Regions from separate parts of the Homo sapiens genome. Here region 2 is linked to region 1. Evidence: fine-mapped expression QTL. A gene starts in region 1. The other region holds a variant in brackets. All regions are shown on one strand. Distances are between the middles of the regions.

Evidence for each region.
Region 2: its variant is fine-mapped to the expression of DHRS12 in whole blood (INTERVAL, PIP above 0.99).

Annotation. Positions count from the first base shown.
Region 1 is chr13:51,799,132-51,811,520 of GRCh38, forward strand. It overlaps DHRS12 (dehydrogenase/reductase 12), which reads right to left and starts at 5,032. Exons shown (of 9, transcript NM_001377533.1): 1 at 4,923-5,032; 2 at 403-536. The coding sequence starts at 528. LOC107984561 (a long non-coding RNA gene) reads left to right here and starts at 4,705. Exons shown (of 2, transcript XR_007063805.1): 1 at 4,705-5,670. RefSeq lists enhancers at 3,348-3,397, 5,783-5,912 and a silencer at 4,593-5,232.
Region 2 is chr13:51,838,499-51,850,887 of GRCh38, forward strand. It overlaps TMEM272 (transmembrane protein 272), which reads right to left and starts at 6,679. Exons shown (of 5, transcript NM_001351003.2): 1 at 6,518-6,679; 2 at 1-55. The coding sequence starts at 32. RefSeq lists an enhancer at 10,680-11,180. The variant T/C (reference allele first, on the strand shown) is at 4,904.

The DNA of each region.
Region 1 (12,389 bases):
CCCCCTCCCCTTGTCTCTCACCCCAGGAGAGTCTCATTGAGAAGACATGAGTTAGAGACCAGGTGTTCATGTTTTTGTTTTTGTTTTTTTAATTAAATTCCACTGGGGATTCTGATGTCCAGGGTTTGCTTGAGCCCCTCGCTGTTCTTAATCAGAAAACACTGGGACACGTGGGCAGGACCCCAAGCTCGCCTGAGAATTAATTAAGTGTTGAGGAAAGGGCTCCTGTTGCTCTAGCCACCTGGAGCTCAAAACTCAGAAAGCTGGCAGCTGTGCCCAGAACCATGGGATCGCCGTCCAGGACTTCCTGGCCTGCCTGTGACACAGGGTGCCCTCCTCAGTGTGGACCGGCCGCAGTCTGGCCGTGGGGCTCAGTGGACACACGTGTTAGCAGCTGCTTACCTCGCTTGGCGATTTCAAGGGCAGTTGCTTTGCCAATGCCGCTGTTTCCTCCAGTGACCAAAAAGACTCTTCCAGGAATCTGGACCTCCAAGTCATGAGGGACAAAGTCTTTACATGCAGATTCATAGCCACTCCTAGAAAGAGGAGACCCACAGGAAGACCAGCTGTAAGGAGTGGGGAACACAAACCCCTGCAGGAGAAAGCCTAATTCTAGGATGGGCATTATTGCTGTCTCCGCCTCTCCCAACACATCACGAAACTCCTTTCTCCCTTGCCCTCCCTGCTCTCACAAACACCACTATCTCGGGGCCTGCATTTCCTGGACCATGATCTTTCCAAACTTTTGAAAATATTGGAGATTCCAACATTTTGGCATCCAAATTGTCTTCCTCTGACTGCCCCGATCCTGGGGAGTGGCAAAAAGAAAAAAAATCCCTTGACAGATGAATTGCTCTTTTCCCTTTTGTGGGGGGCAGGTTTCAGGAAGCTTAGGAGACCATTTGCATTGTGCTTATTGCATTGCAGGACAGATATCCTTGCCTACTTGGAGAAACGGGGGAGATTTGCAAGTAGGGAATAAAGGAGGAGGATGGTAGAGTTATTTAAGCTCTGCACCCATCAGAGGAAGCCAAGGCTCCTTCAGGGACACAAGGTGTGCACTGCACAGCTCTAGGGAGTGCCATTCGGATCAGAATGATGGGATATTTGTATCTGCATTATGATAATGTTCTGGCAGGTGGCAGAAAAGCATATTGCAGAAGAGGTATTTTTTCTGATTTGCACAAAGGCATCATATTGGATAGATGCAATTGTGAGTTCTTTAACTGTTTCTTTTTCCCATTCCTTTTGCGATACCTCTCTACCTTTACTCTTCTAGTATTTCCTGGCTATGAAATTGGCTAAGGGCAGTGGTGGCAGAATGGTGGGGTTGGCAGGTGGAGGCCCAGAGGGCAGACTCTGCCCACGCACAGGCAGGCTGGGGTCTCAGAGCTTACATCTCTCACCTACGGAGCCGAGAGATTTCTCCTGGGCAATGCAGGATGGGACTCTGATCTCAAGGCTCCACAGATGCTGAGAGCCCTCCCACAGGACCTGTTTACAAAAGGGTAGCCAACAGCTGGCCTCCTGCCCCATGCCCTGGTACAGCACAACTGCCAGTTACATGCTCTGGAACTCGGGGAAGTGGCCAAAGGATGTTTATGAGCTTGGGTTTGGTTTGAAAGTCATTGCCACGGGGCAGGCATTGCCACTTGTTTCAGTCAAGCCAGATGTTCTTAAGAGAACAAGAAAAATGTTCCTGTTTTCACCATCTGTAACTCACCAGAACATGCAGGGCAGCTTAGAGAACACCCTACCCATTGCTTCTGCTGTGAGTGGCAAGCAAGACTTCTTATTCCAAAGCCTTCCCAAAAAGGTTGACTTGAAACTTAAAAATATCAGTAACAAGGGCTTGAACAACCTGGGTTTAAGTCACAGCTCAGCCTCTTACTAGCTGTGCCATCTTGTGTGTTGATTTAACCTTTCTGAGCTCTTATCTCCTCATCTGCAGAAAGGGAATAATAAGAGATACCTCTTGGGCAGCCTAAATGAGATGCCGCATCTAAGGCACTTATGACAGCACTTGGAACATATTAGGAGCTCAATAATTAGCAGCTGACATTATTATTTTTTGAGACAGAGTCCCACCCTGTCGCCCAGGATGGAGTGCAGTGGCGCGATCTCGGCTCACTGCAACCTCCGCCTCCCGGGTTCAAGTGATTCTCCTGTCTCAGCCTCCTGAGTAGCTGGGGTTATAAGCGCCCGTCACCACACCCGGCTAATTTTTGTATTTTTTAGTAGAGATGGGTTTTCACCATGTTGGCCATGCTGGTCTCGAACACCTGACCTCAGGTGATCCACCCACCTTGGCTTCCCAAAATGCTGGGATTACAGGCATAAGCCACCGCACCCAGGTGACATTATTATTATCACTATTAATAATGACAGTACCGTCCATGTTCACACTTGAGCTCATTTGGCCCCCAAGCCTTCAAATCAGTAGGGACTTTGAGAGCATTTTAAACTACAAAGAGGAAACTGGAAGATTTTTTTCCCCCTAAACACAGACGTGAGCCCTGGAATCTCTGTGAAAGGCTTTTCCGGTAGAGGCAAGGGCCTGAGTCAATGAATAGGGGCTTAGCTAGGAGGAGGCATTGTGGGGAATGAGTGAGAACTTCCCAAATACAATAGAGCCAGAAAAAAAGCAGTCCACAGGGAACAGGCCTGAAGAGCCCTTCTCCAGGGGCAGGAAGCTGACAGGCTTTTCTCTGTGATACCCAGTCAGAGGGGACATTAGCCTCTGGGCTCCACACTGATCCGTATTAGAGACGAATGTTTGCTGAGGCTGGCTCCTCTGGGTTGAACCTCTTCCTCAAACTCCAGACTGGGAGTGCTGCCAAGCGGGCAGTACCAGCCTGGCCTGCAGGACATGTCCCCGCCCTCTGTCCTCTGCCTTGGATCTTGCCTTCCATACAAGAATTCCATCCTGGTCCGATCTGTTGTTAATAAGACTTGTCTTTTATGTACTCTGCCCCTTATTGGGGAAGCATTTTATTTTCACTCTAGAAATCAGTCTCTAGATATCAGTCTCTATTTTTCACACACACACACACACACACACACACACACACACACACACACACACACGACTTTCCCAAGGTCACCAGAAGGTAGGTGATCTTCTTCAACACCCAGCCTCGGTGCCAAAGGGCAGTCCCCAGACAAGCTGCATCAGCATCATCTGGAAACCTGTTGGAAATGCCCTGCCTACTGACTCAGAAGTGATTGCTTGGCAACCTGTGGTTTCATGTGCCTTGCCAGTGATTTTGACTCAAGCTGAGAGGACATTTGTACTTACTGTTTCCTGAAGCTGAGGTGACAGGGATGGGGAGGAGGAAGCTGGCAGGTATCTGTGTCTCCCCACACCCTCAATTTACCCAAATATGAAATTTGCTTAGGACCCATCCACACTTGCCCAGGGTTTAGGAGTCTGTTTAAAACTGCCCCAGGGAATTATTAGGTTCAGCAAAGTTTAGGAAACAGTGATTAGATCCTCCTGCCTTAGGAGCCCAATATAGGGAGGCTTTATAAAAATCCTTGTGCCAAGAGAAACGTTGTAAACTCTAACTCCGCGCTCTCACACTGAAGTCAAAACAAGGTTGTTGTTTTTCTCTCCTATTCACTAAATCCACAACAGCAGGAAAACCCATCTAACTTTGCCAACTGCCTTCCCCTCCCCTCCCTTCCCCCACCAATCTGTGGTGGATTGGGCCCCTTGGCCTCACTTCTACCTTCCCTCAAGGTGGGGAAATCAGAGCGAAAGAGTCCTGGGAGAAATTTTTACAGTCTGCTTTCCTTGGGGCCCACCCCTGGTTGGAAACTGACTTAAGCTTTCATGCTGTGTAATGTGGAAAGATCCAGCAATTAATGGTCATTGCCAGAGGACACCCCTTTGAAAGAAAGAGGCTGCCACTGTATTCCCCTAAAAACTGTGGGACAGGGCTCACGACTACACTCCCCACCATTCTCTGCAGCAGGGGCTCCTGAGACAGAGCTGAACCTTCTCCAAAACGATGTGGGGTGAAGAGCAGGGAGTTGCAACTCCTACCTCCCCTAGGAGTGCTGGCCAGGTTGCCGTGGGAACTGATAAAGCCCCAGTGCAGGGAGAAGCCTCTCAGAGGTGAGAATCACCTGGGGCATTTGGATGAAATGCCAGTCCAGGCCCCTGTGCAGATCCACTAAATCAGAATCTGTAGGGATGGGGCCTGAAAACTGGGTACTTTTAATTCTCGCCCAGTGATTCTGATGTGCAGACAGGGTTGAGAACCAGCGGTTAGCCTAATCAATTCTAAGAGAAAACCTCCATCTCTCCTCCGTCACAGGAACCTGTCACCTCTTAAAACCACAATGAGGTGGAGAGCCAACTAGGGCACACTGAGCGTGGTCACGGGGCGACGAAACCACCACGCACCGTTCCCCAGAAGCACACACTGGCTGGAAAGTTCCAGCTGGAGCCAAAGGTCGCAGTCCAGGTGCTGCATCTTTTTAAAGGAAACACACCCAAAGGCACTAGGACAGAGCCTTAGCTAGCGATTTAGATCCAGCCCTATCTGACGCCGCCAGCAGCACCACGAAGACACTTCCACGAGCACACCCAGCGGGGCGCCGAGGTGCCGCCCAAGAGGCTCCTTGGCGCCGGGGCCGCCTGACGTCAGTGGGACGGCCCTGGGCTTGGGCGCGCCACAGCCCCGCCCCTCGGGCGCCAGTCTCGGTCGCGGGCATTGAGCGGCTGGAGTCTGGCGACTGCCCCACGCCCAGCCGTGGGTCGCTAGACGGCGGGCGCACCCGTCGTTCTGGACACGCTTAGTCGGCCCAGCGAGAGGGCGAAGGAGCCGCGGGCGCGTCCCCGCCAACCCTGCTCGCCCGCGCCGAGGCGGGCCACGTGACAGCCCGGGGCCCCGCGCCCCGCCGCGCCGCCTTACTTGGTGTACTCGCGCAGCCCCTTGGCGAACCACACGACGCTGCGGTACAGGGACATGCCGGGAGCGCCCCACGCCTAGCCCCACCGCGCTCCCGGCGCGGCCTCCGCCCTGGTCCCGCCCCCCGGGAGTCGCCCGCCCTGACATCATCCCGGTTATGTAAGAGCCGCGGCTTCCGGTTCCTTGCTCCACCGGTAAGGCAAGGGGTCTCGGGGCCGGCCGGTCGACTCCGCCCCAGCCTCAGAGGGTGGAGTGAGGGCGGACCGGCCCTGGTGGGGGCCGCAGTCGAGGTCCGCAGTCTCCTCGGGGTCGAAATCGGGCATCAGCGCCGTTTAGAGAACACCGTCCTGCTGGGCATGGCCGGGATGCGAAGATGGCCCTGCAACGCACCTCCTAGAATTTGGTTACCTAGAAAACCATGTGGAATAAAACGACGAGGCTTATGATATTTAAAAGACTTCTGCATCGAATTGGTGTTATCATAAGGGTTATTTTAATAACTGGCATTCTCTAAGTTTCTACACGTGTTGGGGGATGCAGTGCCGTGCCACATTTCCCGTCTCCAGCAAGCGCAGTCAGATTGGCGACATCGCAGGCAAGAGGCAGGGCTGGGGCTCCCACCCGAGAAGTAATTGTCTCCAAAGTTGGACTTTTGCCACTGGTTCTGCGACTTCATGCAATGCCAGGGAGAGCCCCTTGATTTCCCCCAAATCCTCATCAGCCTCTTTCCACCCAAGCCCAGATGAACAGTGTGAGTAAAAAAGAGTGTGGTTGCTGCGTGAACCCAGATCTCAGACTAGTCATCCAGCCCCATTATGTAGGACTCAGACACCCCTGTCCACATCTAACCTCCAGCCCTAACGCCACATTAGAAATGGGGGTCTTACTGCTGCTGTCACTCCTAGTCACCCTGTTAAATTCTATACCGGTTTACCCAAGTCGCCCAGAGACTGGGCCCCACTTACATAAGCTGAAGAGACCAGCTGCTTTAATAGCCTCATTACCTAGGATATAGGATCACTGTCCAACCTCACTCCACAGTGGGCAAGTTTTTACTTCAGAATAACTTTTGAAATAAATTTCCCCGGAACAGCTCGCCCCTCTCAACAGGACTCTGAGGCTCCACTACGTTGCTGTTATTCCTGACAGAGTGATGAAAGGAAATTTAAACAAGTGGCATTTTGTAAAACCACCCCAGCCTGTGTGACTTTCAATGCCTGTCCGATTTGGCTGGGAAAATATTTTAGATCCCCAGGGCTACATACTGTTTTTTATACCCTCCTCTTTGTGTCAGTGATGGAAAAGGTGTCAATCTGCTCTGAATCTCTCTGAACACCTCAGGAAATAGGCTTTTGGCTCGCAGAGAGGGGATGAGAAATAGTTTTGAACCACCAAGTCTCTTGGAGGGTGTCAGCAGCCCCTTGAAGTAAAAGTGTGGCTGCAAACCCAGCTCTCTGCATTAGCCAGGTGAACCTGAGCATGCTGCATACACCCTCAGTCTTGGTTTCTTAATATGTAAAATGGGAATGAATATGCGCACCTCGTGGGGTGGTTGTGATTAAAGGCATTCATTATAAAGAGCTTAGTTTCATACAAAGTGATCAGAAGTGTTGGTTTCCCTCCTTAAGTTTTCTTCTCATTCCTTTTTCCCCTGCGCTTACAGCCATGCAGTGTACATTCAAGAAATTTCCATGAGGGCATGAGGTGTCCAGTGTTAGCCTCAAATCAAGCATCCACGAGGTAGTTAGTGTATACATTATATACATTTAAAGAGGAGGTCTTAGGAAAAGCCAAACCCTGTCTCAAAATGAGCTTCCACTCTCACCTGGATGCCAAGTAACACACACACACAAACAAAGGGCAGTATGGAGTTCACAAGGGAATGTTCCCGTTTAACTGGAGTCAGCTGAGCTGGATTCTAGTCCAATTTCTGCCAGTTATTCCCTGTGTGACCCATGTGATAAAATGTATAGAAGGCTTAAAGTGTGCCAAGCATTGTGGATTATAGCACTTAATTCTCACACTGATCCATATGGTTACTCCTGCTATTATCCCCATTTTACAGATGAGCAAACTGAGAGAGGTTACATAACTTGACTCAGGTCACAGTAAATACATGGTGGAGCCAGGCTTTGAGACCAGGTAGTATGATTCCAGAGCCCACACCTTCCCTGCTGCATCATACTAAATGGGGGCAAGTCACTTAGCCTCTGGGCCTCAGTTTTTCTCATCTGAACAGAAAGGGGGCCAGACTAGGCGCCACCCAGGGCTCCTTTCAGCTCCAACTTTCTATACATCTACTAAGAAAATTACATATGGATGCTAAATAAGTTAGGCCCAGGGTGCTTTTAAGAGAAACGTCAAAGTGGATAGGGTTGCTTCATTTCCCAGGGGTGGAAAGCCACTAAAATATTTCTTCTGTGTTCCTGGTTCCAATTTGCCACTCAAAAAGCCAAACAAAGAAATCATCCCCCAGAGTTCCATTCCAATTGATTTAGATCCCTGAGGCTAATTTTGACCAAAATGGAAGGAGAAGCAGAAGGTGTGGAAACCCATGGCTTTCTGCACAACAGATACACATGATGAGAAGTCTGTATTCTCTTACACACATATACACACACACACACACACACAACCAGTGTTCATATCGCCTTCCACTGAAGCTCATACCAGTTCCTCTAGCCAAGTTGTCATGGCAACACCAGCTGCCAATGAGATCATGGAAGACAAGGTCATAATGGCAATGGTGCCTTAATATTTTACCTGGCAAAGCCACTTAGTTATTAAGATGAATAACCATAAGTCATAAACTCATAGGAAGCTAGGCACCATTCATGTACATGTTTAGTGTACAATTGGGGGTGGGGAATGGAAATGACAGCGAAGGGAAAGGAACAAAAAGGAAGAGAGGATGAGGCAGAGAGCGGAGAAGAAGGTCTCTGATGCTGATCCTTATTTTTCAGTGTGGACCATGCACAGGTGCTGACCCTACCTGTACATGGATTAAGGAACTGGGCTCTTCCTAATGACAAGAAGTGGGGGGCGGGTCATGGGATCCCAGCCTCAATCACAAAAGCCTTATCAGAAACCCAAGGCGACTGCTTTCTGGCATTCACTCCTAGCAGAAGAGAGCAGCAGCACAGGGAAGAGGTATGTGGTAGATACCAGCCCACCCTCCTCCCCACTCCGCAGCTGACACAGTCACCGTGTAGAAAGGCCCTTCCAGCTGCCTCCCCATGTCCCTCGGTGCCCATCATCCTTTACAGACTGGCTTGACCCAGGGCTGTCTGTTGCCCATCTGAACCAACTTCCTACCTAACAAATCAATTGGATTTAGGGGTTTCCTTCCTTTCACAAGAAGCTAATCACAATGTGGGCCTCTGGCCAGAACTTTGGCAGTGGGGAGCCGAGGCGGGAGACAGACTCAGTTTACATTGAATGCCTTCTGTGCCATTGAATTTTGTACCATGTGCATGAATCACTTACTTAGATTTAAAACATGCAGAGATCTACTTTCCCCAGCCCTGTGCACCCTCCAAGGACTGCAGACATTGGCAGTGAGATGGGCCCAAAGTGGGGCAGTAGTGAAGCCAGGGTGGTCAGTCTCCATGTAGCCAAGTTGATGGAGAAAGTGATTTTCCACAAACGGGACTCGTGTTCGTCTTAAACTCTCATGCAGCCTGCTTCTAGGGCTTCGGTTTTACGGCAAGCAAGTTCTGTTCTGAGTGCAAAAGCCGTGGGCTTTCTCTAGTGGTGCCTGGGGCAGGAGTAGCGCGAGGGCATGCAGGCTGCTTGGTGAGGTGGTTGTAGCTTGCCCTACCCACACTCTGTACCACCTTGTACCCACCTCTGGCCTCAGGAGAAGGGCCACCTACACAGGCGGGAGAGGGATGCAGACGCAAGGTGAGAACTGGGATAGAGAGTCAGAAGGCCCACATTCAGCTCTGAGGCATCTTCAGAAAAGACACTTTACCTCCGTGAGCCTCAGTTTCCCCTCTACAGAGGAGCATAACTGTACAGTCCTCACAGCATTGTAATGAGAGTGAAATAAAGAAAATTTTCTCTTATTTAACAAATGCTCTACCTACTATGTGCCAAGCACTGTTTTAATCTCCTTACCAATGAAAACGAGGCACAGAGAGTTTCAGTGGCACATCCAAGATCACACGCATCTGGAAAGGGGCAGAGCCAGGATCCCAGCCTGACGGTCTGGGTCCAGATGCCACATGCTTAACCCCTTCTCTGTAAGGACGAGGGACATGTCCCATGGTGGTGTCTCCTCATTTCTTCTTTTAGTAACTTCTGTGGGACTGGAAATTTCCACTACTGTCCCCTCCCCTTTTTCGGTTGGTTGATTTGTTCTTGGGTGTGACAGGGTAGCTTATAATTCCCACAGTTTTTTCTACCAGGATTCCTCCCACTCCCAAACCCCTAAGCCAGTGGCACTCAGAGCTGGATGCTGAGCACTGCAGTCACTAAGAGTGAGACTGGGTTTGCAGCCTGGCCCTGCATATGCAGACAATGACCAAATGACCCCGCACTGGCCAGCTATTTAATATTGAGCGACTGTGGAGGCTTGGGAGGACTGAGGAATACATTACTTATTTTTATTTTTGACTATGGTAAAATACACACAACATAAAATTTACCATTTTAACCATTTTTAAGTGTACAGTTCAATATTAAGTACATTTACATTGCCGCGCAACGATCCATCTTCAGAACTTTTTCATCTTATTAAACTGAAACTCTGTATCCATTAAACAAGAACTCCTCATTGCCCCCTTCCCCAGCCCCTGGTAACCACCATTCTACTTTCTATCCCTATGAATTTGACTACTCTAGGGACCTCATCTAAGTAGAATCACACTTTGCCTTTTTGTGGATGGCTCATTTCAGTTAGCAACATGTCCTCCAGGTTCATCCATGTTGTAGCAAGTTTCAGAATTTCCTTCTTTTTTAGGGCTGCATAGTGTTCCATTGTGTGTATAAACCACATTTTGTTTATCCATTCATCCATAGATGGACACTTGGATTGCTTCAATTTCTTGGCTATTGTGAATAATATTAATATGAACATTGGTGTGCAAATACCTCTTTAAGACTCTGATTTCAGTTCTTTTGTGTGTATACCCAGAAGTGGAATTGCTGGGTGATATGGCAATTTTATTTTTAATTTTGGGGGGACCTTCCCTACTGTTTTCCATAGCTGCTGTGCCACGTTATGTTCCCACCAGTATTGCACAAGGGCTCCGGCTCACCGCATTCTTACCAACTTGTTATCTTCAGAGTTCGTTCCTTTTTTTATTTAATGGCATCCATCCTGATGCGTATGAGATTGCACCTCATTGTGGTACATTATTAATTTTTGTTATGTAACAACATACATTTTATACCTTCTGCAATATTCAGGTGTTGCTTCCGTCTTGTATCTGTTGCCGAATATATCTCAGTTGTAGGTATTCACACAATCACACGATATTGGAAGGATAGTTTGGTCCTTAAGTAGGTGGCTTTGATTTTTTTTTTTTTGAGACGGAGTCTTGCTCTGTCGCCCAGGCTGGAGTGCAGTGGCGTGATCTCGGTTCACTGCAAGCTACGCCTCCCGGGTTCACGCCATTCTCCTGCCTCAGCCTCCCGAGTAGCTGGGACTACCGGTGCCCACCACCACGCCTGACCAATTTTTTATACTTTTAAGTTAGCCAGGATCGTCTCCATCTCCTGACCTCGTAATCCGCCTGCCTCGGCCTCCCAAAGTGCTGGGATTTTTTAATGGTTTCCTTGGTGATGGTGGGATTTTGTTGACTCTCACACTCCTGGGGAACATAGAGAATAGCATCCACCCTAATCAACCTCTCTCCTCTCAGGAGCTCGATGAGTCGTCGCGTCCAGGTGAGTCTCCCTCAGGTGCATCATGTGCCTAATCCAAAGGCCCTGCAACGAACTTCCCTAGGAGCCCAGTTCAGCCAGGGGCCTACTTAGGTACACGACAGGAGGAATGGCAAACAGTTTCTCAAACTGACCTCTCAGCTGTTCATTTGTCAAAATACAGTTTCACATTACTGCTTTTCCCATTTTGATTCACAGAAATGAGAGACCAGGCAAGTTACAGAGGATGAGCCTCTTAAAATAAGTCCTATGAATACATATTAGTCGTGTTTGAGGCAGAGCTCTGCGCTGGTAATGGAAAGAAATCCATGATCCAGGAAATAGAAAAATGCAGCTTGTCAAATAATATGAATAGTCTGACATAATTTTTTTTTCTTTTCTTTTTTTTTTTGAGACGGAGTCTCGCTCTGTTGCCCAGGCTGGAGTGCAGTGGTGCCATCTCGGCTCACTGCAACCTCCGCCTCCCGGGTTCAGGCGATTCTCCTGCCTCAGCCTCCCAAGTAGCTGGGACTACAGGCACACGCCACCACACCCAGCTAATTTTTGTATTTTTAGTAGAGACAGGGTTTCACCATGTTAGCCAGGATGGTCTCAATCTCCCGACCTCGTGATCCGCCCACCTTGGCCTACCTAAATGCTGGGATTACAGGCATGAGCCACCACGCCCAGCCTAGTCCGACATAATGTAGGTAAAAAGTACCTATATTTATGCTTAACGATACATAGACATATTCCAAAAGGATACTACAGAATTAACACTGGGTACCTTTTTGGGGACCGGGAGTTGGGGGGGTGCTTCAAATCTTTTACTTTTTACCTCATACTCGTTTACACGATTTGAATCTCTAGCCATAGCATGTATCACTTTTATAATAAAAATAAAGCTTTAAAATTGTCATTTTAGGAAAATAAAAAGGGTTGTAAAAGGGGATATACTAGTAATTTATGTCATGCCTCCAGCTGTGGAGAAATAACCCTGGCTTAGGCCGGCTTCCCTGGAAGCAGAGTCTGAGATGAAGCTCTGGGATAAGGGATGTGTTGAGGGTGTGGCCTTGGGAGAAACGAACTAGGGTAAGGGAGGAAGCACTGGGGAAAGGGAAGCGCTGGGAAAGGATGTGGCTTTCCACGAAGCCCTGCTTTCACCTGATCCCGCGGGCAGCTCTGGTGCATAAATGCCTCAAGTTTGACCTGCCCTGAAACAAGGGAGTTGGGCTTTTCCTCCCTCTTCCCCGACTCAGCCCTTAGCTATGGCTGTCGGTGGGGTGAACTGGGAGCGGGGAGAACTCTCAGGCTCCAGCTGGCTCCAGTCAACCAAGGCGGCCCCCACAAAAGGGTGCAGGTGTGCGCCATTAGCGCCAGCACCTGCTGCTGGGGGCGGGAGGGGACGCTGGGCTGCCAGAAGGGATCCCAGGGGAATCTGGGCTTCAACCCCTTTCCCCAGTGACTTGGGAATCGAACCCAAACTGGCTTCCTTATAAACAAATGTATAAACTGTAAATTGATGTAGGAAATGTTTTTCTTTTCTGTTTTCTTTTTGATGGCTATGGGAAGGTACAGGCTACAGGACATTGTATTAAATAG
Region 2 (12,389 bases), 39 kb after region 1:
TGATGACACGTTTTCTCCAGACCTCCTGGCATTGTTCTTGCTCGCTGACAAAGTTCTGAGGATCAAAAATAATTCATTAGAAAGGATGGTGGAAGGATTTACTCAGCACCAATAACCAACCCTCTCTGTGCATGTCAGTGGTGGCCTGCAGGGTGGTCTCAGTCAGCCCGGGTGGCCTGGGTGCCAGTGTCAGGTGTGGCCTTGTTAGTGGTTAGCGGGGCTGAGAAAAAGACCCCCTATTCCACAAATGAGAGAACCAAGCTCAGAGAGGTTAAGAGGCTTGCCCAGTGATACCAGCCAGGAAGACACAGGCCTGGAGGGGGAGATGGTAACAGCTCTCACTTGCTGAGCAATGGCTGCAGCCAGGCGTTGTGTTAACTCTTTAAATAGGTCATCTCATATTTAATCCCACAACAATCCTATCTGGGAAGTGTTACTGACTCTGTTTTACAGATGGCGCCTTAGAGACCCTGAGAGCTTAAGATTCACCCTAAGGCCAGAGCTGGCAACTGGCAGAACCCAAACTTGATCCAGGTATGGCTCCAGGTACAGAGCAAGGGCGCCCTCACTTCCTGACGCAGCTGCTGCACTCCCCAGGGTCCAAGCGGAAGAGGAACCATGGACTTGACCAGAGCAGCCTGGGTGGAGACCCGAGCGGCCTGGAGCACCACCCCGGCTCCCCTGTGGACCTGCTGTGGTCTGAGCAAGTTGGTTGACACTGTGAGAAAGGGCTTCCCTTCCTTGGAAGAAACAGCCATATACATTTTAAATCCACAAAAAAACTCCAGCTCATCAAGACGGCAAATTTTCCTGCCCGGTGAAATGAGGTAGCCCCGTAAAGACACTAGGAGAGGAAGGGAGTCACTTTGTTCCTGAGGCTGGGTGTGCGTAGTTCCACCACTTCCCACCACGTCATTGCTTGGGAGTAAGGCCTCCATGGGGGCTGGCTGATCCAGGCGGGATCTGGGGCAGGCATCCTTACTTCATACAAAAGTCTCCCCAGGAACCTGTCCAGAGTAGCCGCGGCTCCATTTAAAAGCACGATTTAACAAGGTCCTTGTTCCTCATACTGCAGGGGTTTGCAAACCAAGGGACCACAGCATTTTAGCAGCACTACCTGCAGGCCCTCCTGGGTGAACTAGGGCTTAGGGCAGGGGGAACAGGCCGTGATGGGGAAGATTTGTGGTCTGAGGACAGAGATGGTCATGATGACAGAAGGAGAGCTTGCTTTGACCAGAGCTGTGGCTCATAGCAGGCAAGTCACTCCACCGCCAGCGTCAGCATGGGCCTGCAGGCAGGAGCCATGCAGCCCGCAGCTTCTCTCTGCAGCTGATCCACTGCTAGCACACAAGCACGGTGGTTGGGCTGAGACTCGGGGTTCTTATTTCCCATCACTGTCCTTCTAGGACATGTCATGCTCAAAACTTGGCTTTATGTCAACAGGACCTTTATGGCAGGAAGCAGTGTGACCAGAGATAGTCAGTCCCCAACCAGAGGCATATCACCAGCGCCCTGCCAAGGTCTTCCACATGTTACCTAATTTAGTCTCCTCAGTTCGTATGCCCCATTTTACAGAGAAAACCAAGATTCAGATCAATTTGTTTGCTCAAAGTCACCCAGCTAGTAAGTGGTAGAACTGGGGTTTGAAATGAGGCCTCCGAGACTCTATCTGAAACCTGGACTTTGTGCCTTCAAAGCCCACAATCTCTCCACTTCACCCCAGAGCAATAAAGGGGAAGAAACCTGGAAAGGAGAGGCTTCCCAAAGTGAGTCAGGGATTAAGCAAGGAGGTCACGGTGCCTCCCTGGTCAGTCCTGTCATGCTTGATCCTATTTAACCAGGCAAAGATTCTTATCCCCATTTTACAGATGAAGAAACTGAGGGTCAGAAAAGTGAAGGACTTGCCCAAGATCACACAGCCAGATTGGAATCCAGGTGTCTTAAAATCTGCCAAACTTGAGGTGCCTACTCTCTGTTAACCAGAACGGACTTTGACAGTTTTGACTGCAGTGAGATGATGGGACACAGAGTGGCAGGGCTGAGCACCCAAGGTTTTCTGACCCCCCAATCCCTGGGAATCCCAAAGGCAGCGCTTTGGATTCCAGGGGTCCCTCTGCTGTTTCTGCCTCCTGACGCAGGCTCCCTGCCCACTGTTCTCCTGGAAGCAATTGTGGGGGATGCGCATGAGTCTGTCTCCCTGGCATGCAGTAGGTCTTCAGTAATGTTTAATGAATAATTCTATGAACTACTATTCAAATGTCTCTTCACAAGGCTCCATTTTCCCCCACAATGTTCTTGCAAAAACTGTGGCTGTGATGTCCTTATACACAGAAAATCAGGAACACCACAGCCCTGAGGAAACCACAGCCTCCTTCCACATCCTTTGACTCGGGATTCTACCGATCAAGGTGAAATGAGACCAGTTCTCTGGCCCAATGGGGTTTGCCAGGTGCACATCCGTTTGTTACATAACAAGTAGGCCCCAAGCCATGGACAAATGGCTACTGTATGAATTACAGATTTATTGTTGATGTCCACACTTCATGAGGTTGATTGCCACACGGGTGTCACAGAAGCTAAGCCACTTAAAACCCTGCCTGGAAAAACAACCCTCCTGGATCCAGTGATAAGCCCAGTTATCTAAAGGGGCCATGGCCCATCACGGCTCCTAAAGGCCCGGAAGGTCGGTTCCTTTCCTCACCCTTCTTAGGGAAAACAGAGGGTGCACTTCACATAACAGGGAGAGTGTGTACTTCACATCTTCCAGCCACGAACCACAGCATTTTTCTCCTGGATCACAGAAGGGATAGAACAGAGGGAGGAGACACAAGAGCCATCTCTTTACACTTGCCTGGTGGAGTCGCCACTGATTTACAAACTTCCTTTGAAATGTGTTGAACGGTTTCTATCAGCGCCTACAAACTAAGACATTCCAGTCTTCAAATCCACAGCAGCTTTGCAGAAACTAACGAGATGGGTCTGTGTCACATTATAACAAGACATTTCTACCTTGGGCCATTCCCTGGGGTAAGAGGTCACGCTTTAATCTCCTGTGAATCCTGAAGAACAATGTTTCACCACAAAAAGTAATAGAGCTGCATATACATTTTTTAATGCAAATGTCCTAAATTGGCTGATCCCTTTAGCCACTAACTGCAAATAAGGTAGAAACATCAATTTGAAAAACAGTGATATCTTTATTGATAATATCAGACCACAAGAGGTGGCAGCCAATAGAACACACCAACACAAGTCGCAGGTATTAGATCCATTTTATAAATGAGGAGACTCTTATTCTTTCAAGCTTGTTATTTTCATAAACTGGCAAGATGGATGAGAACTAAAAAAAGAATGATGTGCTGTGAATTCTGTCACGCCTTAAAGAATGTTCCCTAAGAGACAGGTAGCAGTGGCAGTAGAACTCAGCTTTGGCATCCAGCCCGAAAGGGAAGACAGAATTCCCAGGTACAGTCTCAAATGCTGGCCGACAAACTTTGCATATTGTGTTCAACTTCCCTTACAAGGAATAAAATGTTAAACACACACACACACACATCATATGACCTCGTGCATGTAATAATGTCTGTAGATCTACGTAAACACATAGAAAAAGATCAGCAGCATAAACACTAAACCACTGTGAATAACTGTTCCCTATGAAGGCAGGTACAGGGATATGGGGCCACTGGGGCTGGGGTAGGGGTAGGGAGGAATGTGCCGCAGGCAGGCGTGGGTAGTATTTTCATTTCCACTTTATACCCAAATATTGCCTTGCCTTTTCCCCCATTAGCAGGTTTTACCATTATAATTTTAAACTTCTTTTTAAAACCTCTTAAAATTCAAGAAGTATTATTTGAAATGAAAAGTAGTTTGCTTTCCAAAAGTCCAGAGATTTTTAAAAAGTAGCATGTAGGAGATAGATAAGCAGAAAAGGAGTAAGTCCACCAGGGAGCAGACACAAAAAGAAGAGAGATGATGTGATGGTGGTAGGCAAGATTTTTCTCTTTTGGAATACTTTCTTTAAAAATTACAAAAGCGAATTCACAGAAAAATTAGATCAAGGAGAAAAGAAAATCATTAGTCATTATAAACAACTGCAGAACTTCCAGCCCAACTGTTAGTATTTTGGAGCTTTTAAGTATATGCATATATACATATGCATATGTGCATGTACACACATTTTACATGGTTGCAATAATCAGGCACATTAAGTGAACACATCACATTTTGACATAAGCATTCTTTCTGTTACCATTTGGTCTTCAGAACTCTCATTTTCACAGCTGAATTATATTTCACAGAGTACGCTATATCAAACTATATTTCTCTATATCTTCTTGTTGGATATTTACTTTTCACTCAAGTAATCCTAAGAGACATTTCTCTCCATGAAAAGTGCTTTGTTTCATGCACACGTAGATCTCTTGGAATAGTTATGTAATTAAAAAGCATAAGCAACTTTTTGGATTTGAGGTAAAATTGACTTATAAATGAGCTGTATCCATTTCCAGTGCCACCAGCAATATGAGAGTGGCAGTTTCACCACACCTAACCAGCACTGGGTGGCTGAAAGACTAATGCATTTTTATTACTCTCATAGGCAAAAGTGGAAATTAATTATTTTAATTTACATTTTTGATTGCCAGTGATATTTTGCCAATTCTTTCTAGGCTTATTTCCCAGTTGTATGTTCCCCCTTGTGATTTGGTTTTTATGACCCAAGATATGGATTTATTTCAATTCAGAGGAAGCCCACAAAGAAAGCTGCAATTTGAGAAAATAGCAGTGAATCTGCTTTTTGATTCACAGAATTCACTGTGTGAATTTGCAGATTCAAATACACTACAAAAGACCTATTCACTATTATGGTGGGGACTTGAACAACTCACAAAAAACTGCACGT[T/C]CCTTGGAGCCCTTTGAAGCGGCAGCTCTTCCAAAAGAGGGTCCCTCAACAGCAAGAGATGCCCAATAGAGCAAATACATACTAATGATGGATTCATGTCAATGCAATCCATTAAATGATTGACTAAAATCTGTAATGACACAGATTTTAGTCAATTTCTATACCTTCTATATCTTCTACTAAGAAAACGTACATTTTTTCTTATTTGATAGAAAGTTTTCTTATTTGTTAGAAATCTGAAACAGGAAGAGATTGGGGTAACAGGCCGGGCAGTGCCTTCTCTCCAGTGTGAACAAACAGTGACTTACAAGTCTATCCTTGGGCATGCTGTGATAGGACTGTGTGTCTCACACCTGCCTCTGCACCTAGAAGGGCAGTGATAATAGCCCCTGCTGCTTCCTCTCCTAGCAGCTGAGTGATAATAAAGGGCACGATGGGAATTAATCAATAATAATTGCCAAATGATATGCTCAATGCATTTTCAATTTTCAGTCCAATTGATATATCTCAGTGGTTCTCAACCAGAGGTGATCTGATCCCCAAGGCACATTTGGCAATATGTGGAGACATTTTTAATAGTCATGGCTGGAGCAGGGCTGTCGATAAAGAGACCAGAGATACTGAAAAACATCCTCCAAGGAGCAGGGCAGTCCCCAACAACACTTATCTGCTCCAAAATGTCAATAGGACTAGGTCTGAGAAACTTTCTATGTCTGTCTAACATTCCCAGTTTTAGAGTTCAAATTTGTAAAATTCTACTTTTGTTAACCTCTGAGTTGTGTCATGAATCAACAGTAAACATATATATATGTATATATATGTGTGTATGTGTAGACACACACACATATATATATATGATTGTGTTTTTACTGATTGGCTTGGTAAATTAAACTATTTATTCCTAAATCAGCTGTGAGGACCAACTCACTCTTGGTTTTGAATAACATTGAATATTAGACATTAACCATCCCCATACCTGTTCCTTCAAAGCAGATGTTAACTAGTATTGTTGAATATTTTCAACAAACATTTCGGGTGCTCAGGACACAGTCCTTTCTTATCTGTAGCTCTCTGTGTAACCTGTGCTGTTTTCTCTCCTAACCATGCCCGAATGCATGAATTCAGTGGAGGTTATCGCATACCTACTGTGTCTCAGAGTCATTCCACAACCTCCCTAGGATGCCTTCATTGTTTGGCTCCTAGGAAATGAAAAATGCACTTCCTTTGAGCTCTACCACCCCTTTAAAATGACCAAGTCAAAGCCACTTGCTCACAGCCCCAATAGGTAAGACATGGAGGTGATGCCTGTGGTCCCCACTCGCTGTCCTGCAGCCGGTAGGTTGTTTCTAAGAGTCCCACACAACTTGCCTTCGCCCTGCAGTTAATTATTCCTTTACGATTGTTCTCTTCTCCAGAAAACCCATCTCCCTTAGACTCAGTGAAGATTGTTTTCGTTCCCTCCACACAATTAAGAAAAGCACTTCCACAATGTAGTCATTTTCTTTCCAGGAAGCATAATCAGCACATTGGCATCTTCCTAAGAATGATTTCAAGAAACCCTCTGCTAGGACTGTCTCTCCAACTTCACAGGCTGCCCAGGGTTGCCGGACTCACCTGAGCTAAGCAGAGTGGGATCCAGAATCGGGCAGCACTCAGCACCTCTGTGGTCCCGAAGTCCAGGGCTGCCTCTGTGGGGCTCCTCTTGACTTGGGGCTCCCACTCCCTGTCGCACGCTTTCTTTCTCCCTTTCTCTCCTGCAGCACAACAGCAACTCGTGGCTTTTCCTCTAAGGGGCGGGTTCTCTCCATTTCCCACTCCCACGTGTGGGGAGAGCAGCCCCACCGCCGGCTCATACCCCTGCAGTGTTCCCCAGGCCCGCAGGGGGGCAGCAGAGCGACCCTGGGAGCTGTGGAAACATGGCCGACCCCTTGGAGTTAGGAATTCCCGCGGGAAACATTTCATTTCAGTCCCTTAGGCACTAAACCTAGGGACTTAGTTCTGGTGCGAGCCCCTTCTCACCCCTTGCCCTCCCTGCATGTTGGTGGCACACGAGAAAGGGTGGACCGAACAGCGGCTGCTTAGGAAAGAGTGTGAAGGTACTCAAAGTGGGCTGAGGTAATGAGAGGTGCCCTATGGACTTCAGGACTGCCACGTAGAAAAGGGATTAAATTGATTCCGAGTCATTGCAGACGGCCAGATCTGAGATAGAATGAAGTTACAAGAAGGCTGAATTGTGCCCCATGTCATAAACTTTGTAACAGTGGCCTTCTTAGACCTGAAGCAGGCTGCTTTGTGAGGCTGTTGTGTGTCTGTATTGTAAGCAAGCACCTAGCAGTAGAAGTTCTCAGCTGCTGATTTATAAGAAGTGCCAGAGATTCTTTATTGAAATGCAGATTCCTGTACCACCTCCCAAAGATTCTCAATCTGTAGGTCTGGGCCTGGGCCCAGGAATCTGCAGTTTAGACTCTGCTAAGTCTCCTGTAGGTGCTCCATGGACCACACTTAGAGAAACTGGCGTCACATGACTTAAAGGCATTCTCCAACCCTGACATTCCAGGTTTTTTGTTGTCATTTCGGTGGAAAAGGCCAGTCTACTGGGGAGGGACTGGGGGAGGGACTGGTGTGAGGCAAGAGAAGAGCCTATTATGTAAAATGCAAGGAGCTGCTCCCTCTGAAGCTACCCCTGCATTGCACACCCCTGGGAGGAGGGCACCTCTCCGGGCTCACTCTAGGGCTGGCCCTGCCACTCTCCCAGTCCTGAATCCAAGGTGACCACTTCACACCACAGGACAGGGTGAAGCAGAGGAGCAAGGGGAGGAGAGCCTGCTAGAGGAAAGGACATACAGTCACAGTCATGAGCCACATAACAATGTTTCAGTCAATGATGGACCACACAGATGGTGGTTCCTTAAGATTATAATGGAACTAAAAAATTCCTATCACCTAGTGATGTCATAGCAGTCATAATGTTGTAGTGCAACACATTACTGATGTGTTTGTGGTGATGTTGGTGTAAACAAACCTACTGCACTGCCAATCACATAAAAGTAAAGTACATACAATTATGTACAGCACATGATACTTTACAGTAATAAAAAACAACGAAGTCACTGCTTTATGTATTTATACTATACTTTTTATCATTATTTTAGAGTGTACTCCTTTACTTATATATATTAAAAAAAGGTTAACTGTAAAAATGCCTCAGGCAGGTCTTTCAGGAGGTATCCAGAAGAAGGCATTGTTATCATAGGAGATGACAGCTCCTGCCTGTTATTGCCCCTGAAGAACTTCCAGTGGGACAAGATGTGGAGATGGAAGATAGTGATATTGATGATCCTGACCCTGTGTAGGCCTAGGCTAATGTAATGTATGTATAATGTATGGGCTAATGTATGAGTCAAAATTAAAAAAAATTATAAAGTAAAAAAGTTACAGTAAGCTAAGGTTACTTTATTATTAAAGAAAAATATTTTTAATAAATGTAGTGTAGCCTAAGTGTACAGTGTTTATGAAGGCTATAGTAGTGTGTAGTAATGTCTTAGGCTTTCACATTCACTAATCACTCACTCACTGACTCATCCAGAGCAACTTCCAGTCCTGCAAGCTCCATTCATGGTAAATGCCCTATACAGGTGCACCATTTTTTAATCCTTCATATCCTATTTTTACTGTACACAATGTTTAGATACACAAATACTATGTGTAGTATTTTCTACGTTTAGATACACAAATACTTACCACAGTGTTACAACTGCCTACATTATTCAATACAGTAACATGCCATGGTCTCTGGCCTTTTGGGAACAGTACTGGTCCCTAGCCTTTTAGGAACCGGGCCCCACAGCAGGAGATGAGTGGCAGGTGAGCAATCATTACCACCTGAGCTCCACTTCCTGTCAGATCAGCAACGGCATTTGATTCTCACAGGGGCACAAATCCTTCGTGAACTGTGCATGCCAGAAATCTAGGTTGCACACTCCTTATGAGAATCTAATGCCTGATGATCTGAGGTTGAACGGTTTCATGCCAAAACCTTCCCCATCCCCACCCTCATGAAACTGGTCTCCGGTGCCAAAAAGATTGGGGACCACTGGGTGTGTAGTAGGCTATACTATGTGAGTTTGTGTGAATACATTCTATGACCTTCACACAATGGCAAAATTGCCGAATGTCACATTTCTCAGAACATATACCCATGGTTCAGTGATACATGACGGTACTTGAATCTTCTCTTATCTCACACTGAGTGAGTGGAAGCAGAGTGACTGTGAGCAGTGAGGTCAGAGTCTTAAGGCTTCCCTGCCAAAGTGGTGGGGGTCTGGGAGCACACGGTGACCATAAGCCTGGCCTGGACGTGGCCAAAAAGGGGCAGCAGTCTTTTTTGAGCACATTTTAGCCCTGACATCAAAACAAACAAAATTTCAGGTGATGAGGCAGTCTTCCTGGGAGTTCAGGAAGGGAGAAAACAATGGCAGGTCACTCAGGAGCTTTTCCACATGTCCCCAAACATGCAGCAAAACATCAAAGAATATTTTTCTGCCAACAGACAACTGTACTTATGAGTACAGAAATAGGAGATTTTTGTGGGGGAGAAAGTAGGAGTCTTTGGAAAGTGATTATGAGACTCCAAAGGTAATGATAAATGATAGTAATAATAGCTCTATCAGTTAAGAAAAACGGGGAATCTGATATGGGGAATTAGTTACAAGAGCCACGGAAGAGCTGAAAAGTCATGCACGATGTCGTGGTGGAGTAACCCAGAGATTAGCAACTGACAGTGGAAGCAGTTGCTAACCCTAGAGATGTGAGTGGAAGACCACCACTGGAAATGCTGCCCAAAGCAAAGTAGGTGCGATTAATACCCCCACTTCACAGATGAGTAGCATAAGGTACAGAGATTAAAGGCATATGGCTACTAAGTGTGTAATGAACTTCAATTCAGGCCACGTGATAGAGTCCACATATGGCACCACTCCACTATTGCCATATGAATAAAGGGCACATTAGGGGAGATGATAGTAGAATTGAGTGAAAGTTGAATTCAGAGTATAAATTTTTAAATGCTTGTCTTTAGTTGAGGTGGTTCTCCTCATAAAAGTGAGTTCATTCATTCATTGAATGAATACTGCTGACTCCAAGCCAGATACTGTGAATAAAAAGATTACTTAATAAAATCCATGTATCCTATAAGGAATTTTGATGCAAAAGAGTAGTGAGTGAATGAGCACGTGCCTGAGTTTAATTACAAAGGCAACTGTGAGTTAATGAGGGTAGGCCTGACTTCTTGATGGAAGCTGTAGAAATGAAGGGAGATGCTAAAGTTGCCCAAAGACCAGGTTGTGCACCTCCAAAAGGAGCAATCAGAAAGCCAAGGGACACTGATGAGTGTTCACTCTCACTCTTCCCCAAGATTGCACAAAAGTTTGTCTTTGTCTTCGTCTTTGCTTGTGTGTTATTCCCCAACAAATTAGTTCTATGTAAACATCCTAATTCTTTTCATGCTTTCTTTGGAAGTTTTCCATTCTGATGTCACTCTTCTATTTGAGTCACCGTTTCTATATTTACCATCTATTCATCCTGACGGCTTCCTAATTTGGGAGAAAACCTTCAGGGTCCCTCACTTCGACTTCTACCTGAGTCAAAAAGCATTTCAATATAAGTTTTCATTTTCCTTTTGACTTTTCCCAGCATTTTAATTTTCCTGAGGACAATTTAAGAAAAAGAGAAACAGAATGCATGGTCCCACAACTAGTTCACAGTCAGGAAGAAGAAGAGTTAAATGACAGGCACCCCTGACCCATGCTGCAAACTTGAGGCCATTATGCTAAGAAATAAGCCAGCCACAGAAAGGCGAATGCTGTATGACTCCACTCACGTGAGGCACACAGAATAGTCATAGACATGGAAGTAGACTGGTGGTCACCAGGGGCTGGAGGAAGGGGAGCACGGGGAGCTGCTGTTTAAGGGATGTGGCATTTCAGTTTTGCAAGATGAAAAAGATTGGTTGCACAACAATGTGAATATTCTTAACACTACTGAGCTGTACATTTTTCAGTGGTTAAGATGTTGAGTTTTATGTTATGTGTATTTTAGCACAGTTTAATAAGCAAACAAACTCCTGGATCTGAGAAGCTGGGGGAGTCAAGGCCTAACATTCTAAGGGCCCTGTGGAACCGGGCAGTTGTCCAACATGCTCCAGAAAATCCCGGGGTCTCTTCAGCCCCAATTTCAGCGGTCGCAGAGGCCCTGTGGGAGGATGCGCGGACACGCCGCTGTCAGGTTTCCCGCCTCAACCCTTTTACTCAGGTCTGAAGTGGCGCCTTGGAGTGGGTGTGAGGAAAGGAATAACTCTCCTGTCTTCCTGTCCTTAACCTGGGCTCCAAGGCCGAGGGTCTAAGTTCCCAGGGGCAAGTGTCAGGGTTGGGAAAATGCACAACGCCACCTACTGGCGCCTCTTTGCCCTCCCTCCCCATCGCTTCCTGCCGTCTGTGGTCTCTCAGTGGGACCTGGGCTGTCTCTTTCAGAAACAGGATGGACACAGTGGCTCATGCCCGTGACCGAGCACTTTAGAAGGCCAAGACAGGAGGATTGCTTGACACCAGGAGTTCGAGACCAGCTCAGGCAATGTATTGAGACTAAAAAACAAAATAAAAAATTAGCTGGGTGTAGGGGTGTGTGCCTGTAGTCCCAGCTACTTGAAATGTTCCCCTGGGGAAAGAAAAACCCTTCTGTAATTTTGTTTGAGATTGCATTAAGTTTATACACAAATTTGGGGAGAACTGGCATTCTACTGCTATTATCAACTACAATTTTACGTTGTTTCTCTCTCCCCCTCTTTATTAGGTGTTAAGCCAAATCACCTATTAAGTAATGATGATTTCCTTATAATATTTATACTTGTTTTATTTCTTTGCCTAATAAATTGGTTATTATTTACAAAACGGTGAATGCTATCCACTTCTTTATTTTAATAATGTCTTCTGGGATATTTTTAAAGAATGTAAAAACTAGACAAGGGCCCTGCCCAGTCAGAATGGAGACACCAGTCAGCTGGTACACTTACATCAATGAGCAATTATGGGCACACAGTAAGCCCTGAGTCTTTTATCATCAAGTATAATGTTTGCTGATTTATAATAAATTTAAAATAATATTTTAATTCTTATTTTACCAATAATTTTTTCTCAGGTGGGGATAGGGGGTATGCATTGCTTCTGTGATATTGTTGCTACCGGTCCATTTCAATAAACAGAGCTATACCATATCTATTTTTAAAATCATGAGTACTTTTTGATATTTAAAATTTAAATCTAATACTATACTCTTTTGTGTAATTTATTTGATTTTTATCATTGTATCCCTTTTCTTTTATACTGAAAATTTTGAATCCTAACATTATTAACGTATTTATATGCTTTGTCATACAATAGAAAGAAATGTTTCAAAGTAACAGTACAGCACTTCTACAAAAATAAAATGACCA